5 linked regions of the Homo sapiens genome follow. The protein of the gene in region 3 purifies or fractionates together with the protein of the main gene of each other region. This does not show direct contact. Each region holds a gene or a part of one and is shown on either strand. Other genes may lie near its edges. The genes, in order: GART, ENAH, ARHGEF18, AKAP13 and EPB41L5.

Region 1 (3,696 bases), on a different chromosome or scaffold from region 3:
CAAAAATATAGTTAGAATGAACAAAATCTAGTGTTTGATAGCATAACAGGGTGACTATAGTCAACAATAATTTATTACACATTTTAAAATAACTGGAAGAGGCTGGATGTGGTGGCTCACACCTATAATCCCAGCACTTTGGGAGGCCAAGGCAGGCGGATCATACTGAGGTCAAGAGTTCAAGACCAGCCTGACCAGCCTGGCCAACATGATGAAACCCCATCTCTACTAAAAATACAAAAAATTAGCCAGGCATAGTGGCAGGTGCCTGTAATCCCAGCTACTCAGGAGGCTGAGACAGAAGAATCACTTGAAACTGGGAGGCGGAGTTTGCAGTGAGCCGAGTCTGCGCCACTGCACTCCAGCCTGGGCGACAGAGTGAGACTCTATCTCAAAAACAAAAACAAAAACAAAACAAAAAAAAACTGAAATAAAATAACTGGATTGTTTGTAACACAAAGAATAAATGCTTGAGGTGATGAATACCCCATTTACAGGGATGTGATTATTACAGGTTGTATGGCTGTATCAAAAGATCTCATGTACCCTATAAATATATATACCTACCATGTACCCATACAAATTAAAAATTAAAAAAACTCCCTTCCTCTTGGGATAATGGATTAATAGATTGTGAAAAGCACAGATATTCCTGGATAGCCTCCAGTTCCATCCATATTGCTGCAAACGACGTGGTTTAGGATATGTAATTGCTCCTAGGATATGTAATTGCTCCCACAAATTCTGTATCTTGTGATCTAGCATTGTAGTAGAAACAGTATAACATTATGTTAAAACTGACTGATGAGAAATAAGCTGCTTAATTAAGCAAGAAAAACTGACCCTCTCAAGAACAAACCACTATGCTATGACTCTTACAATAGTTTCTTTAAAAAAAAAAAATTTTAGATTCGGGGGTACACACGCTTGTTTATTACATGGGAATGTTGTATAATGGTGGGGACTGGGCTTCTAGTGTACCTATTACCTACATAGTGAACATTATACCTGATAGAAAAATTTTCAACCCTCACCTCTTCTCCCACACTTCCCTGTTTTGTATCTATTGTTTCCATCTTTTTTTTTTTTTTTTTTTTTGAGATGGAGTCTTGCTCTGTCTCCAGGCTGGAGTACAGTGGTGCAATCTCAGCTCATTGCAACCTCTGTCTCCAGGGTTCAAGCAATTCTCCTGTCTCAGCCTCCAGAGTAGCTGGACTACAGACGTGTGCCACCATGCCCAGCTAATTTTTGTATTTTTAGTGGAGACAGGGTTTCACCATGTTGGCCAGGATGGTCTCGATCTCTTGACCTTGTGATCCGCCCGCCTCAGCCTCCCAAAGTGCTAGGATTACAGGCGTGAGCCACAGCACCCGGCCCTATTGTTTCCATCTTTATGTCCACATGTACCCACTGTTTAGCTCCCACTCATAAGTGAGAACATGCAATATCTGGTTTTCTGTTTCTGAGGCAGTTCACTCAGGATAATGGCCTCCAGTTCCATCCATATTGCTGCAAATGATGTGGTTTTATTCTTTTTTATGGCTGCATCTTACAATAGCTTCTTTGCTTTATTATCAACTTGGGCCTAAAGTACATTAAAACCTTAAGATCGACCTGTAAAGCAATTAAACTTCTGGGAATGAATCCTGAAGAAGTATCAGAGCTGGTTGTGGTGCTGCATGCCTGCAGTCCCAGCTACTCGGGGGGCTAATAAGGCGGAAGGATTGCTTGAGGCCAGAGCTGGAAGCTGCAGTGTACTATGACTGCATCTGTGAATAGCTACTGTACTCTAGCCTGGGCAACATAGCAAGACTGTCTCAAAAAGAATCACTATGATCTTGGCCATCAAATAAAAAAAAATCACATATGCATTTAAGAACATACTGAATATTTGCAAGAATGTTCATAGCAGTGTTACTTACAATAGAGGGAAAAAAATCAGGCTACATCCATCTGAGAGAATACAATACTCTTATTACTTTACCCCTCTATCCATAAAGGTTAAACATAAACTTCTTCTAATTAATAAGATAACAATAAAAATTCCTCAACTGTTTTCAGACTTTTCAACAACAAAGCTATGATACAAAATGAGCTGTAGCTTCTATCTTTTCTGGTTTCTCTTTAACCAGCTTTCTGACATCCTTTACTTTTTTCTTTGGGAGCTGTCTCAAATTCCTAAGAAAAGTGGAAAGACTAAGAATGCTGAAAAGACAAAGACAACCCTCATGATTCCCCCCAGTCCCTAGACTCTGCCGAGAGTAACCTTACAATCTCACAAGAGTGCGGGGAGGAAAGGAAGGGCAGTCAACAGCTCTACAGTGAAGGGGAAGCCACATCTCACCTGTTCCAGATATTAAGACAGCCACTCTGGCCTTTTTTTTTTCAAAAGAGAAATGATTTGTCAGGGAGCCATTCTTCAACACTGACCCATTTATTTGCATGCTTTCAATCAGATTCTTGACTTTCACACGTGGGGAACCTTCATTTCAAACATATCCATAAATAAGTAAAGAACAATTGTGAATTAACAAGAATAATGGAAAGAAAAATATTTTATGAAAACTTTAGGGTATGTTTTATCCTGAAAATAAGATAATGCAAGGACTAAAATGAACAACACATTTGTATCACTTAACACTACTCTTTCATAAAAACTTCCAAAAGGTGAACATATGTAATTACTTCAACTAAAAGCTGCAGATCACATCACTATCTTGAAGTGCACGGTGGATATATATGACTGCCTGCCAGTATTCTGCCCCTACTCCCCAAATCTTCCTAGCGAGACCACCCACAGTAGTGCCATGATCTCCTGGTCTCGGGGATAAGCATGTGACCTAGCAAAGCCATTTAAAGGCTTGATATGCGATGTTAAGAAAAAGAGGGTCTCTCTTTTTTTTCTTTTTGAGATGGAGTCTCGCTCTGTTGCCCAGGCTGGAGTGCAGTGGCGCGATCTCGGCTCACTGCAAGTTCCGCCTCCTAGGTTCACGCCATTCTCCTGCCTCAGCCTCCCGAGTAGCTGGGACTACAGGCGCCCGCCACCACGCCCGGCTAATGTTTTGTATTTATTAGTAGAGACGGGGTTTCACTGAGTTAGCCAGGATGGTCTTGATCTCCTGACCTCGTGATCCACCCGCTTCGGCCTCCCAAAGTGCTGGGATTACAGGCGTGAGCCACCACGCCCGGCTGGGTCTCTCTTTCTTATTGTAATGTGAGCTGAAGGATGTTATCTTTCCGGCATTTGGAGAACCCGCTTGAAAATGAATCCTACACAATAGAGGAAAGAAAGGCAGATACAGGTAAAGTCAACAAGGTCTGACATTTTTTTTTTCTATTTTTTATTTTTGTGAATCTTCTCTGTATCGTTCCAATTTTAGTATGTGTCCTGCCAAAGCAAGCATGTGACGTCTTTGTTAGTGAATCTGAGTGGATTTTCTGCCCCTCTGCCAAGTTCTAGCACTTCTCGCAGAGTCCTGACTGATACAGTACTTGTCAGGGTGCTTGCTCGCTATTCCTTGAATCGAGCTGAGTGACAGCAGAGCCATGAGGTCTTGTGTGTAGGGAGATTACTTTGGGAAGCGATCCTGTGGGGTGTGGCTGTGCATGCATGAATGCTTAGTTCTGAGGCAGAAATGAAGAGATACGTGGTATCGCTGGGGTGGGTGCTGTCATGTTACATCTGTGTAAAGATAG
Region 2 (3,696 bases), on a different chromosome or scaffold from region 3:
CTGTGCTGGGAACTTGGAATGCAGAGCCAGGTCACGCAAGACCTTAATAATTTTGGTTTTATGACAAATTTGGGTTTTAGTCTAAGATGCCGCTGAAGGCTTTACATGGGAAATAACAATATCTGATTTCCACTTTAAGAGTATTCTGAGTGATGCATGAAGAACAGGGGACATGAATGGAAATGAGGAAACACTAATAGTTCAGGTAAGAGATAACAGTGGCCTGGACTTGAGGCAGTGAGATGGACAGAAGCAAGTGAAGGTGACCTGGTAGGACAATGATAGACTGGATACAGAAAGGTAAAGAAACAAAAAATAAAAAAAAAAACAAAACACAGCACTACTTCTTGATTTTACTTCTAGGAATGTATCCTAAAACAGTATCAGATATGTACACAAAGACATATAACCAAAGATGTTCACAGCAGTGTTTTTTATAATAACAAAAATAATGGAACAAATCTAAAAGTCCATCTTTAAGATTTAAGTAGACAAAGTCATCCATCCAAAGCAATGGAATATTATGCAGTCACTTAAAGTTATGTAGCTATATAGTTAGGAACAAGAATTACTGGCTGGACACAGCAGCTCATGCCTGTAATCCGAGTGCTTTGGGAGGCTGAAGTGGGAGGATGACTTGAGGCCAGGAGTTCAAGACCAGCCTGGGCAACATAGCGAGACCTTGTCTCTGCACAAAAATCTTAACAATTAGAGGGTGTGGTGGCGCACATCTGTAGTCTCAGCTACTCAGGAGGCTGAGATGGGAGGATCGCTTGAGCCCAGGAGTTCGAGGCTGCAGTAAGCTATGATTGCACCACTGCACTCCAGCCTGGGTGACAGTTTAAGACCCTATTTAAAAAATAAAAATAATAAAATGTAAAAAGTATAGATATTATATATATGGAAAGGGACAAGCTACAAAATACACAATACAAATATAGTATAATTCCATTTTTAAATAGTATAATCTTACTTTTATATATAATCATATGCACACGCACAATGATCTGCAATGCTGCAAATGCACTACAAAAAGTTTAGAAATCTACACATTAAAATATTAAAATACTAGATGGCTTGGATTTAACATTTCATAAATAAATGTTTTATACTTTCCATACCTTCTAAAATCTGTTCAAAATCTGTACTACTTTACAATGGAAGGAAAAAAGTAATTTAAAAAAATACTGACCAGACATATGGACAACAGTAATTGATTTATTTTTCTAAAAATAATTCTAAAAAAATTGTGCAAAGACCACAATTAAGTAGACTGTAAGTAAAAGTTTTAAATGAAAACTTAAGATACATAAATCTTAAATTGTTAAAAACTGAACGGTCACAATTTTGCTTGCAATATCAGTCTAACATGAGAATTTGGGGGAGGAGGAGAAAGACTGCAGAACAAAGCAGATATTCAAATAACCAGTATATAATAATTATTAAGACTGCATAAAAAGATCCCTTCACTGAACTGTAAAAGGAGCAATTTGGACTCCCTTGAGATTTGACCTCAAGAGCTATTCATTTTATTTTACTTAAGTTCTTGGTTCTTCATAAAGCTCCCCCGCTGCCAAGTTGCAAATGTAACAGATACCAAAAAGGACAGAAGACTGAGGACCTCTAAGGCACAGTTAAAGGTAGTCATTTTGATTTCACATCATCAGATGTATTCTTACCAAGACCAGATGTTCTATAAGGCCTTTACCACTGGAAAAGGGCTCAGTTTATTTAAAAATATCATGATTACCTCATTCCCCAAAGACAAAACTTTTGGTATTTGAGACTACTGTAAACAAACCCCAGAAAATCACCACCCAGATTTAAGTTTTCTGAAGATTCTGATGGATTTGCTTCATCACATTTTACTGGTGACTTTAGTCATCCTTACTTACAACAGGCCTACCAAAGAGATGGCTGGCTGTCTCCTTAGCACGAAGATACAGCTCCAAAATTTGTTCAGGCCTTTCAAAGCCACCACTACCAAGGTTTCCACCTCAGCATTCCCACGTGCTTGTTTCCCTACAGAGAAATGTCCAGTGGTTCTATCTTCAATCTCTCTTCTTTAAATAGCACGAAGATGTCAATTCAAAATATTAATCCAAAGTAATAAAAATGTCAGAAACAACTCACGTAAAAAGCAAATGAGATCTTCTGGTGTTATTATATAGATCTGTCTATTCTGGGCATTTCATATAAATGGAATCATGGCATATATCGCCTTTTGTGTCTGGCTTATTTCACTTAGCATAATGCTTCCATCTACGCTGTGGCATGTATCAGAATTCCATTCCTTTTGATGGCCAAATATTATTCTGTTGTATGGACATACCACATTTTGATGATCTATTCATGAAATCAGACACACCTGGGTTATTTCTGCTTTTTGGCTGTTATGAATAACGATACTATAGACATTTGTGTACAAGTTTTTCTGTGGACAAATGTTTTCATTTCTAGGAAAGGAATTGCTGGGTCATACGATAACTCTATGTTTAACTTTTGAGGAACTGCCAAACTGTTTTCTAAAGCAGCTGCACCATCTTACATGGTTTTTCACATTCTTAACATAAACTTAAGAGATGTCAGACTTTCATAAAAGTGGGGGATTTACTCTTATCAAGCTCATTTTGTGTGCCAAGTGTTATGCCAGAATTTTATTTAATTTTCTCAACAGCTCTATAATTCACAAAGTATATTCGATCCCAAAAAATGTTTATAACCCACTCAAAAATAAATTATTTAGTAAATGTCAAACTAGAGTCAAACCCAGAGTTAACTTCAAAGCCTGTCCTCTTTACCCTACACCATTCAATCTCTACACTTAGATATACATACATTGCCTCATACCCAAAGTAGTCTTTGGAAAAGTTGCCTGTTAATAAAACTTACTTTAATCATTGTAAAATAGAAGGTTCCCAGTGTAAAGAGATTTCTAGAAAATTTAACGGATATCTTGTATAAATCAATCAACCCCCCTAATTTATCTTCTTTAGTAAACAACTTCTGGTTACTTAAAACAAAACTTATCTAAAGTTCACCTAAATATTAAACAAATTATTTTCTTCCAAAGTTGTATGCACTGACAAAAAAAAAAAATGTAGTTATCTTCTGCTATAGACTGAACTGTGTTCCCCTAAAATTTATATGTTAATACCCTAACCCTCAATGTGACTCTATTTGGAAAAAGGGCTTTTAGGAGGTAACTAATGTTAAATTAAGTTATAAGCACAGGGCCCTAATTCAATAGGATTAATGGCCTTATGAAATGAGGAGGAGAGAGAAATCCCCCCTCATCTCCCCGACCCCAGGATTCCCATACCCACCCTACCATGTGAGGACACAGAGAGAAGGATATCTTCTGCAAGCCAGGAAGAGAACCCTCACCAAAACCCATCCATACTGGCAACCTGATCTCTGACTTCCAGCCTCCAGAACCTTAAAATAAATGTCTAGGCCGGGCGCTGTGGCTCCCACCTGTAATCCCACGAGGTCAGGAGATCAAGACCATCCTGGCTAACACAGTGAAACCCCATCTCAACTAAAAAATACAAAAAAATTAGCCAGGCGTGGTGGCAGGCGCCTGTGGTCCCACCTGCTCAGGAGGCTGAGGCAGGAGAATGGTGTGAACCCGGGAGGCAGAGCTTGCAGTAACCTGAGATCGAGCCGCTGCAATCCAGCCTGGGCGACACAGTG
Region 3 (3,696 bases):
CACCTCAGCCTCCCAAATTGCTGGGATCATAGGCATGAGCCACCTCGCCCAGCAAATTTTTAAATGTTTTTTGTAGAGACAGGGTCTCACTATCTTTCCCAAGCTGGTCTCAAACTCGTGGCCTCCAAATGATCCTCTCACCTTGGCCTCCCAAAGTGTTGGGATTACAGTGGTATGAGCCACCACATCCAGCTACAGGAAGATTTTGTAACAGATGGCAGTGTCTTAGGCAGGAGGCACCTTCACCTGTTTGCTCCAAGGAACCCCTATGCCAGTGGCAGCCTGCTCCTCTCCAACTCTTGTCTTCTATCCTCCTCCCTCCTCTTCTGCCCCATTTTTCTTCCCTTGAACCCAGCCTTGTCTTTTTTCTATTTTTTTGAGACAGAGTTTCACTGTGTTGCCCAGGCTGGAGTACAATGGTGCAGTCTCAGCTCACTGCAACCTCCAACTCCTGGGTTCAATCAATTCTCCTGCCTCAGCCTCCTGAGTAGCTGGGATTACAGGTGCGTGCCACCACGCCTGGCTAATTTTTGTATTTTGAGTAGAGACGAGGTTTCGCCATGTTGGCCAGGCTGGTCTCGAACTCCTGACCTCAGGTGATCTGCCTGCCTCAGCCTCCCAAAGTGCTGGGATTACAGGCGTGAGCCACTGTACCCAGCCCTCACCCAGTCTTCTCTACCCCTGTCTCCTACACCTGTGCACACCCCTGCATGCTTCCTGCTTTTGTCTCCCACTTTGCTCCCCTCAAGCCTGTCCCGATTCCCACTTACCCATGGTACTGTCGAAGTTCTTGAAGCACCTGCTGGACAATCAGCCTGTGGGGGTGGAGGTGGGATTAGAACAGCCCATGGTAGCTCCAGGTTACAGACACTCTCCCCTAGATAAGCTGGGGTTGCCCAAGCAGGCCTCAGGTCCTGATGCAGACCCTACTCAAAGCCACAGTCAGCCGGGCACAGTGGCTCACGCCTGTAATCCCAGTACTTTGGGAGGCCAAGGTGGGCGGATCACCTGAGGTCAGGGGTTCGAGACCAGCCTGGCCAACATGGTGAAACCCCGTCTGTACTAGAAATACAAAAATTAGCCGGGCGTGGTGGCGGGCGCCTGTAGTCCCAGTTACTCTGGAGGCTGAGGCAGGAGAATCACTTGAACCCAGGGGGCAGAGGCTGCAGTGAGCTGAGATCACGCCACTGTACTCCAGCCTGGGTGACAGAGTGAGACCCTATCTCAAAAAAAAAAAAAAAAAAAAAAAAAAGCCACAATTGTCTCCCAAGGCTACATTGAGAACCTTTCTGAGGGGCCTGGGTCCCTCCCACCGGGAGAAGGATGGTGGCAGAAAGATGAGGTTATGGGGGGACTAGTGGGATGGTGTCTGGCCCTGGTCACTTATGGCCAGCAACACTGCACCCTGGCAGCCCTCCTCCCGCAGCCCTGACTTTGTGGCCTGTTCCCTGGGGGTCCCTCCCCCACCACGAGGCAGAAACTCACACGTGATCTGGTTCCACATGGTCTTTTTCCATGCACTCCAGCACTGGAGGTTCCAGGCCTGGAAGAAGCCCCCCATCCCAGGAAGCACAGTTGTCAGGAGCTCTGGGACAGGACCAGCCCAGCAGAGCCCTCCCGGATGCCACCCTGGGCCCCTGCAGAACTGGAGGCCATGCAGACAGGGCCTGTACTCTCAGGCAACAGAGACGAGAAGAGGACAGAGAGCCAGGGACAAACGCAGGTGTCCCCAGTGTCTCGTGAGTGCTTACAACCTACTAAGTGCTTTACGTGTGTGAGATCAGCAGACTCTCCAAGTGGCCTGAAGGAGATACGCTTATTGTCCCCCCTCCCCTTTTTTTCCTTAGACACAGTCTCGCTCTGTCACCCTGGCTGGAGTGCAATGGCTCAATCTCAGCTCACTGCAACCTCCGCCTCCTGGGTTCAAGCAAGTCTCCTGTCTCAGCCTCCCGAGTAGCTGGGATTACAGGCGCACACCACCATGCCCGACTAATTCTTGCGTTTTTATATTTTTAGTAGAGACGGGGTTTCACCATGTTGGCCAGGGTGGTCTCGAACTCTGGACCTCAGGTGATCCACCTGCCTCGGCCTCCCAAAGTGCTAGGATTACAGGCGTGAGCCACCGCACCAGGCCTTTTTTTTTTTTTTTTTGAGACGGTTTCACTCTGTCACCCAGAGCGGAGCGCAGTCCTGCCATCAGAACTCACTGCAGCCTTGACCTCCTGGGTTTAAGTGATCCTCCCATCTCAGCCTCCAAAGTAGCTGGGACTACAGGTGCACACCGTCATGCCTGGCTAATTGTTTTTTGTATTTTTAGTAGAGACAAGGTTTCGCCATGTTGCCCAGGCTGGCCTCAAACTCCTGGGCTCAAGTTATTCACCTGCCTCAGCCTCCCAAGGTGCTGGGATTCCAGGTGTGAGCTGCTGCACCTGTTCTAATAGAGGAAGCCACAGAGGCTCAGAGACTTGTTATGTGTTTAGACTCCAGGTTTGTCTGATGCCAGAGAGGTGCAAGATCTCAGGATAAAAATTCAGAGATAAAGAAAGAGATAAAGAAATAGTCAGAATGCTGGGCGCGGTGGTTCATGCCTGTAATCTCAGAACTTTGGGAGGTTGAGGCGGGCCGATCACTAGAGGCCAGGACTTTGAGACCAGCCTGGCCAACATGGCGAAACCCTGTGTCTACTAAAAATACAAAAATTAGCCGGGCATGGTAGCGGGTGCTTGTAGTCCCAGCTACTTGGGAGGCTGAGGCCGGAGAAGGGCATGAACCCGGGAGGCGGAGGTTGCAGTGAACTGAGATTGCACCACTGCACTGCAGCCTGGGCGACAGAGCAAGACTCTATCTCAAAAAAAAAAAAGAGTCATAGAGAGAAGAGAGAATCTTGGGGACAAGCTCATTGCAATGGGGCAATCTCACACTGGCTCAAGAGCTGCAGGGAGAGGAGGAGGGACAGATGCTGGAGGTCCCTTCCCCTCTCTGGCTTCCCCCAGCGTTCTGCTCAGTCCCTGCCCAGGGGACCCTAAGCCAGCTCCCTTCCCTTCCCTGGGGCCCATCTGGAGCCCCACCAAGGGGACCCTCCAGGATGAAGGATGAAACCCCAACAGGGTTTCACCATGTTGGCCAGGCTCCTCTTTCCCTGACTTGGTTTGAATGAAGGAAACTCCCAGGCTGGCTACCTTGAACAGGTGGAGTGGGCACTTCCAAACCCGGAGAGATTTCCGGAGAGCGGATCTCATAGAAGGACACAGGAACGGACCTTGACCTCCCTCTTTTCTTGGGGCTGTCACATTCCTGCAGGGGATTAAACATCTCACTAAGCTGGGAAGGCAGCCTGGACTGCAGGCAGGTTCCCTGGATTGAGGGGCCCAACCCACAGCCAGGGCCACCTCCACAGAAATGGGGTGACACACTCATCCAAGCCTCAGCCTCCAGCCACTCCCCCCAGCCATAAGACATGGGTTCAGCCACCCCCTCCCCAGCCACAGGGCTGTAGTCCTGGCGGAGGAGCCTCCAGCTCTGAGCTGGAGCCCCAGGTATCAGAGCCACAGCTTCCAACAATGGCCAGGAATTTCCCCCAGGGTCCTTTGTGATCACAGCCAAAGATGTCTCAGCCACCAGCCACAGCTCCAAGCATGCATTCCTCAGGTGTGAGCTGGGATCTCAGGTCAGACACAAATTCTCCTTAGCTGTAGC
Region 4 (3,696 bases), on a different chromosome or scaffold from region 3:
AGGCAGCTATTACCTAGTAGCTGTAATGATAATAATTTTGGTACATTTTTACATGACTTAAGCATTCTTAAAAGTCTGATGCTTCTGAGTGTAGAGGTTTAGCTATTTCTTTCATAAAGAAGGGGCCTTGAGACTTGTGAGTCTTATCGAAGTCTATTTCTTCAAAGGTGCCAGATGAACTGAAGGATAATGGAAACAATAGCGAGTTTATCTTCTCAGTCACCTGTGAGTCTTCCTTTGAGAGTGGGACTTGCAGAGTGGCTTGGTAGGGTAGAGCTCTTTGTGACTATGCTATTTGGGCAACAGTGAGAGATGGATTGTTTTCAGTACATCAGTCATAAGAGGATATGAGTTCCAACTTTATTTTACCTTAGTCTTGGCAAATAAGTGTGGATTGTGTCTGTATTTCTCAAACTTGTTTAAGGTAGAGCTGGACTGGGTGTTAACAGTGTTAGTTCAGTACAGAGACATGAGCAAATCACTCACTTCCTCTTCAAGATAACACTTTAAAGGTGACACCATTTACAGAAGAAGGCAGTGATTTAAATCAGTTATACTAGCATAGTTTAGAATACTTACACTACCTAGATGGAGTAGATACATTCTAGAAATATTTACCTGTTAAGGACATTTCTTTAGATTTTATTCCATCTTTCCATTAGTTTTCTGATGAAGAGATTATAGTAAACCTTTAAAAATTATATTTGATCAAACTTACAGATTGAGGATAAACCTTTAAAAATTACAGTTGGTCACACTTACAGATTGAGGGTAAAAACATTCCTGACAAAGCTAGGCGAAGAAAGTTGGACTTTTGATGTTCCCTTCTTTTAAAGTTAACATCTGGCACTTGAATAGACTTGGTTATTACTGATGGGGACAGGCATCCATTTGGAAGTAGCTTCCCTCTCTCTTTCCCAGGTTAGGCTGTCTTACTGCTGTAAATGGGGAGAGACGAGAAAGCTGTGGGTGGAAGAAAGTTTGTTTCATAGCCTGGCGCAGTGGCTCACGCCTGTAATCCCAGCACTTTGGGAGGCTGAGGCGGGCGGATCACTTGAGGTCAGGAGTTCAAGACCAGCCTGGCCAACATGGTGAAACCACATCTCTACTAAAAATACAAAAACTAGCCCGGCAGGGTGGCAGGTGCCTGTAATCCCAGCTACTTGGGAGGCTGAGGCAGGAGAATCGCTTGAACCCGGGAGGTGGAGGTTGCAATGAGCCGAGATCATGCCACTGTGCTCCAGTCTGGGCGACAGAGCGAGACTCCGTCTGAAAAAAAAAAAAAAAAAGGTTTGTTTCATGCATCTGTCCTCACTGGTCAGTGGAAGAAAGTTTGTTTCCTGCGTTTGTCCTCATATTTATAGTTTTCTCGTCCACCTACAAGTTGATTGTGACGTTATGAATAGAAGATGAATGGATAATGTGTTTTTGTCAGACCTTGCTGTAAGGATGGACCTGGTACTGAAATACCGTGATTGTATGAACATTTGTGTGGGGCAATGCTGTGTTCAGTGCCTGGGGAATGTGGATATCAGTGTGTTTGTATGATATGGGTGCTAGTATGGGAGAGAAGGAAAACGTGTGAGGTTTTTGACCATTTATGTCACTCTGTAAGCTCTTCTCTGGCTACTTTGGTGCTATAGTAGCAGAGTTGAGTAGTTACAACAGAGACCATGTGATCTGCAAAGCAGAAAATATTTACTATCTGGGCTTTTACAGAAGTTTGCTGACCCTTTTTCTACATAACCAACTGCAGTTATTCACAACAAGAAAGATTAACGTTAATTCTATAATATTATTCAATACCTATTCAACTTTCTCTATTTGTCTCCCAAATATCTTTTATAGTTGATTAAGAAAAATTTTGGACAGAGTAAAATTAAAGTTCACTCAGCACATCATTATGTCTCTTTAGTCTCTATTTTTTCATTCTTTAATTATTCATATGTATAGTTTACATTCACTAAAATTCCGCCATTTTAGTGTAACATTCTCTGAGTTTTGACAGGTGTATACATTCATATATCCACTGCTGCAAACAGGACAGTCCCTTCATCCTCCAGAATTCTTCTGAGCCCTTTTGTACTCAACCGGTTCTCTACCCCCAGACTCTGGAAATTGCTGATCTGTTTTCTGTCTCCATGGTTTTTTGCCTTTTCAAGAATGTTGTAAAAATGGAATCACACGGAATGTAGCCTTTTTATTCATTTGCCCAATGACTAATGATATTAAGTATCTTTTCATCTGATTATTTGTCATTCTTTGATGTCAATTCAAAATCTTTTGCTTAAAAAATGAGTTTTTGTATATACTTTGGAATCAAATACATGATTTGCAGATATTTTCTCCTAGTCTGTTTTTACTTGTCTTAATAATGTCTTTTTTTGTTTGTTTGTTTCGAGATGGAGTTTGGCTCTGTCACCTAGGCTGGAGTACAGTGGTGAGATCTTGGCTCACTGCAACGTCTGCCTCCTGGGTTCAAGTGATTCTCCTGCCTTAACCTCCCGAGTAGCTGGGATTACAGGCACACACCACCACACCCAGCTAATTTTTGTATTTTAGTAGAGATGGGGCTTTTCCATGTTGGCCAGGCTGATCTTGAACTCCTAACCTCAAGTGATCTGCCTGCCTCGGCCTCCCAAAGTGCTGGGATTACAGGCGCGAGCCACTGTGTCTGGCCTTCTTGTCTTAATAATGTCTTTTGAAGAGCAGAAGTTCTTAATTTTTATGATATCCAGTGTTTTTTTGTTTTTTTGTTTTTTCCCTGAGTGGATCATGCTTTTGGTATAATAGTTTAGAAATCTTTGCCTAACTTAAGAGCTCAAAGACTTTCCCCTATATTTCCTCCTACAAGTTATTATTTTTTTTTTTAGAGATGGAGTCTCACTCTGTCATCCAGGCTGGCGTGAGTGAGATCTTGTTCACTGGAATCTCCGCCTCCCGGGTTCAAGTGATTCTCCTGCCTCAGCCTCCTGAGTAGCTGGGATTACAGGCACCCACCACCATGCCTAATTTTTGTATTTTTACTAGTGATGGGGTTTCACCATGTTGACCAGGGTGGTCTGAACTCCTGACCTCAAGTGAGCCACCCACCGCAGCCTCCCAAAGTGCTGGGATTACAGGCGTGAGCTATTGTGCCCGGCTCGCCTAGAAGTTTTATCATTTAAAATTTTATATTTACATTTATTATCTGCTTTGATTTAATTTTCCTAAATGGTGCAAGGTATGCATTGAGTTTATTTTTTTGTGGATGGATTTACAATTTTTCCAGCAACAGTTTTTGAAAAGACTGTCCTTTCTCTGTTGATTACCTTTGTGCCTTTTTTTTTTTGCAAGTTGATCATAAATGTGTGGTTTTGTTTCTGGATTCTCTCTCCTATTCCATTGATCTGTGTCTTTCATTTCTCTATCACCTCACTGTTGATTACTGTCACCTTAGAGTAAGTTTTAAAATCAGGTAGTGTGAGTTATCTTATTATTTTTCAGAATTGTTTTTTGGGTATTTTAGTTGCATTGCCTTTTGTGCATATTTTAGATTCATCTTGCTGTTATCCACAAGTCCTGCTGGGTTTTTCTTTTTCTTTTTTTTCTTTTTTAAGATGAGGTCTCAGCCGGGTGTGGTGGCTCACGCCTGTAATCCTAGCACTTTGGAGGCTGAGGCGGGTGGATCACCTGAGATCAGGAGTTCGAGACCAG
Region 5 (3,696 bases), on a different chromosome or scaffold from region 3:
TTATTTCTTTGAGAAAGGGTCTTTCATGATTTTGTAGAGATAGGGGTGGGTCTCACTACTGTTGCCCAGGCTGGTCTCAAACTCCTAAGAGTTGAGCTTTTGGGCTCAAGCAATCCTCCCACCTTGGCCTCCCAAAGTGCTGGGATTAAAGGTGTGAGCCACCACATTTGGCCCCAACCATAAATCTAAAAACCTTCAATTCACCAAAGTGTTTTGGGATTCACACCATAGAGGCAACAATGGCAATTATTTTCATTTTTCAAATAAAGCAATACAATGCATATATATCTCCTCCTTTTAAACAGAACCAATCTGTAAGCCTCCAGAGTGAGCTGACTGATTATGAATTATCATCAGTGGAAACCAAGAGGAAACTTAGGGTTTTAAAATCATCACAATTCATTTATAGCTGTATATTTAATTTACAGCCACACCAAAACTTATGAGTATAAATCATTTTTATAAAAAAGTCAATACTGCCAAACATCAGATCATTACAGCTGTTTTTGGACAACTGGTGATGACTCTGACAGTGGAAATACTTAAAATTAAATTTGCATTTTAATGCAAATTCATTTTAATGCAAATTCAGTTTAAAACCAAACACAAGGTTTAATTTATTTGTCAAGGTAAATAGTGCTTTTTCTTATATAACTGATCTTAATCAGCAAGTAACAATTATGAATTAGGAAATGTCTATGTATAACAATGATGAATATATTTTAAAATGGTATTTAATACAATCCTTAATATTATAATACAATATGAAATAAATTTTACTTAAAAAAAATTCATCACAAGACAATGTTTTGGCCAGGCATGCCTGTAATCCTTTTAGGATTCGGGAGGCCAAGGTGGGTGGATCACTTGAGGTCAGGAGTTCAAGACCAGCCCAGCCAACATGGCAAAACCCCATCTCTACTAAAAATACAAAAATGAGTCAGGAGTGGTGGCGCATGCCTGTAATCCCAGCTACTCAGGTGGCTGAGACATGAGAATCACTTGAATCTGGGAGGTGGAGGTTGCAGTGAGCTGAGATCATGCCACTGCACTCCAACCTGAGCAACAGAGTGAGACTATCTCAAAATAAATAAATAAATAAATAAATAAATAAATAAATAAAAATGTTTTTAAAAATTCCTAAGGGGATTAAGGGATGTTTTAGAATGAGATCTGTAAGTCAAAAAGGGAGAGAATATGTTGCTCTACAGAAACAGTTTTGTATACAAAAACTGAACATAACCTCAGACTATCATTTGAATTGGGATTAACATAAAGTTTAATCTCTGCTAACAATACAGGCAATTTTTCTCTGTGTATCCCATGAAATTGATTCTGCCAGAAAAGTACTTTAGTTGACTGGAACAGACCTGAGGAGGAGATTCAGGTAACTTCCTCTTATGGAAACAACACCAGCACATAATTAATTGCCAAGGAAAAATAATCCTTTGAAAGAGGGTTGCACTTCACCTTTCATTTGTAGAGTTCGTCTAGAATATCGTTTGCTGGGCCTTCTTTCAAAGGATGTTGATCTTCTTGCTTTATTGGTTTTTGTGGTCTGATACTCTGTTTTCCCACTAAATGAGGCATAACAGAAGTAAGGGAAATTTTAGGTCTACAGTAATAAACACACACAAATAAGACAGTCCACATTCAGGTTCTCCTTAAAAGAATCATCCTAAACTTCATCGCACAGGAACAGCTACTAATAGTCTCGATCTCTCTCTTTACCATATCATTCTTTCGGCTTTTGTGAAATATGCAACAGATTATGTTGGTTTTATTTTTCTCATATGCATGCATATCACCTAAGTACACATTAAATAAGTTTGAAATATCTGTCCTTTTATGGAAACTCCCTCTCTTTCCCATCTACATTCCTCAGTGCAAAGTGTGTAATTAAAAGAATATTTTCAGTTACTTTTTCTAATTGTGATATTCACTTTTCAGTATAATTTTCCAGAAATGTTTTTTAAGACTACTGTCTTATTCTCCTTGATTTCCATTTAAATTCTGTTTAGAAAATGCCTCCTTACTTTTAATATAAGTAGACTACAGTACTACTTCTATTAACTCCACACAATCAACTGGCCACATTATTGGTACAATCCATTCCTTCTTTAACTGATTTCCATGGCATGCAGAAAACTCACAACCAATAATCCACTCTGCAGTAAACCAAAACATTTCTAACTCATGACAACAAACAAGGAGTCATGAGAATAATGACCTTCAGGTTTATAAAGGACCACAAATGTTATCCAGACTAATATCCCATTCAGTGCAAGAAACCCTTTTCTATATGGTATCCAGTGGTGGGTGGAGAGTCCATAAAACTCTTGTTAAATAGATAAACTGGGAGTGGGTTAATATATAAAGTAAACATCCAGAGGGATATAAAAGCCATTATACAATTACTGTTTACGCATCTATTCAAGAAATTATAACCAATAACAATACCACTTTTTCTATTTTATTTTGGCCAATGGAAGACTCTGGCAAACCACCTTATTCCTCTATACCTTAGTTACCATATCTGTAAAAAAGAGAAGATTGGCCTAAATTTTTTGGCCTGTATGCAATGAAAGACAGATAAAACAGCAATTAAAATTAACCTATATCTAAATCGTGATCCTAGTCGAATAAATCCTGATCGATGAGAACTCTTTTGGACGGGGCCTCGAAGGCGGAAGAAAGCATGATGCTCCACAGCACATTTCCATAAATGTTTGCATGCTTTTGGATGATCCAGTCTAAAGACAAATGTATGTTCCTGTTCTTTGCCCTGAAAAAGAAAAGTATATATAAAAGGATGATTACTAATTCAAACAGTCCTATCTCCTATTTCTGAGATACAAACACATCCATGAATAAAGGATCTAGTGTGCTCCCTGAAATTCAGACACTCTTTATAGTATCAACATAATAAGGGCAGAGCTGAAATCAAGTTGCTCATTTTATCAGCCAATACAAAATTATTCCTAGGAGTTATTCCCCTCTACTTACATGATCTCATTTGTGAGAGAGACATAAAATGAGATTTTATCTGCCATTATTTGGGATAACTGTATAATTATAATTTGAGGAATCATATCAGATCTGGCAGTATGCATCAACAGCCCTAAAAATGCTCACATTTTTGTCATAGTAATCACACTGCCATGAGTCTAATTATAATAGTTAACATTCATATAGAAATTTTTCTAAGGATTTCACATAAATTATCTCAATGAGTAGATACTATCATTAGCCCCATTTCATAGATAAGGAAACTGAGGCTCAAAGAAATTAAGCCCAAAATCACAAAGCTATTAAGAAAGAAAACCGGAAATGAACTTAAACATTAGTCTTGCTCCAGAATCTACATACACCTCTAACAACTAAGTTATACTGCCTCTCTGGGGAAAATTATTTCCTAAACATCAAAAGTTATATATGAAGATGTATATTTCCTCAGTCTCATTTATAATAGTAAAACTTGGTACAAACCCTAAACGTCCAAAAAAAGAGAAATGGTCAAGTAAATAGAGGCATATGTAAAAAATTATGCAGAGGGATAAATGAATAAATGATGAATGAATGAATGTGCTATTGTTTATTCATATTACACAATAGCATATATATATGTTAGATCTACATAGGTACACGTTTAGATAAAACAGGCAAGCTGCAAATATATATAATTATGCAAGTTTT

The links.
Region 1: the proteins of ARHGEF18 (region 3) and GART purify together in Homo sapiens (affinity purification with mass spectrometry; one large-scale study listed by BioGRID and IntAct). This does not show direct contact.
Region 2: the proteins of ARHGEF18 (region 3) and ENAH fractionate together in Homo sapiens (co-fractionation; one large-scale study listed by BioGRID). This does not show direct contact.
Region 4: the proteins of ARHGEF18 (region 3) and AKAP13 purify together in Homo sapiens (affinity purification with mass spectrometry; one large-scale study listed by BioGRID and IntAct). This does not show direct contact.
Region 5: the proteins of ARHGEF18 (region 3) and EPB41L5 purify together in Homo sapiens (co-immunoprecipitation; one large-scale study listed by IntAct). This does not show direct contact.

Annotation. Positions count from the first base shown.
Region 1 is NC_000021.9:33,507,439-33,511,134, forward strand, and holds part of GART (trifunctional purine biosynthetic protein adenosine-3), read right to left. Parts: intron 2,483-3,696; coding exon 2,345-2,482; intron 1-2,344. UniProt on the Homo sapiens protein: Trifunctional enzyme that catalyzes three distinct reactions as part of the 'de novo' inosine monophosphate biosynthetic pathway.
Region 2 is NC_000001.11:225,643,081-225,646,776, forward strand, and holds part of ENAH (protein enabled homolog), read right to left. Parts: intron 1-3,696. UniProt on the Homo sapiens protein: Ena/VASP proteins are actin-associated proteins involved in a range of processes dependent on cytoskeleton remodeling and cell polarity such as axon guidance and lamellipodial and filopodial dynamics in migrating cells.
Region 3 is NC_000019.10:7,376,241-7,379,936, reverse strand, and holds part of ARHGEF18 (rho guanine nucleotide exchange factor 18), read right to left. Parts: intron 3,295-3,696; coding exon 3,180-3,294; intron 1,544-3,179; coding exon 1,486-1,543; intron 816-1,485; coding exon 771-815; intron 1-770. UniProt on the Homo sapiens protein: Acts as a guanine nucleotide exchange factor (GEF) for RhoA GTPases. Its activation induces formation of actin stress fibers. Also acts as a GEF for RAC1, inducing production of reactive oxygen species (ROS). Does not act as a GEF for CDC42.
Region 4 is NC_000015.10:85,383,445-85,387,140, forward strand, and holds part of AKAP13 (A-kinase anchor protein 13), read left to right. Parts: intron 1-231; exon of another isoform or gene 232-291; intron 292-618; exon of another isoform or gene 619-666; intron 667-762; exon of another isoform or gene 763-953; intron 954-3,696. UniProt on the Homo sapiens protein: Scaffold protein that plays an important role in assembling signaling complexes downstream of several types of G protein-coupled receptors.
Region 5 is NC_000002.12:120,089,436-120,093,131, reverse strand, and holds part of EPB41L5 (band 4.1-like protein 5), read right to left. Parts: intron 2,786-3,696; coding exon 2,616-2,785; intron 1,578-2,615; coding exon 1,471-1,577; intron 1-1,470. UniProt on the Homo sapiens protein: Plays a role in the formation and organization of tight junctions during the establishment of polarity in epithelial cells.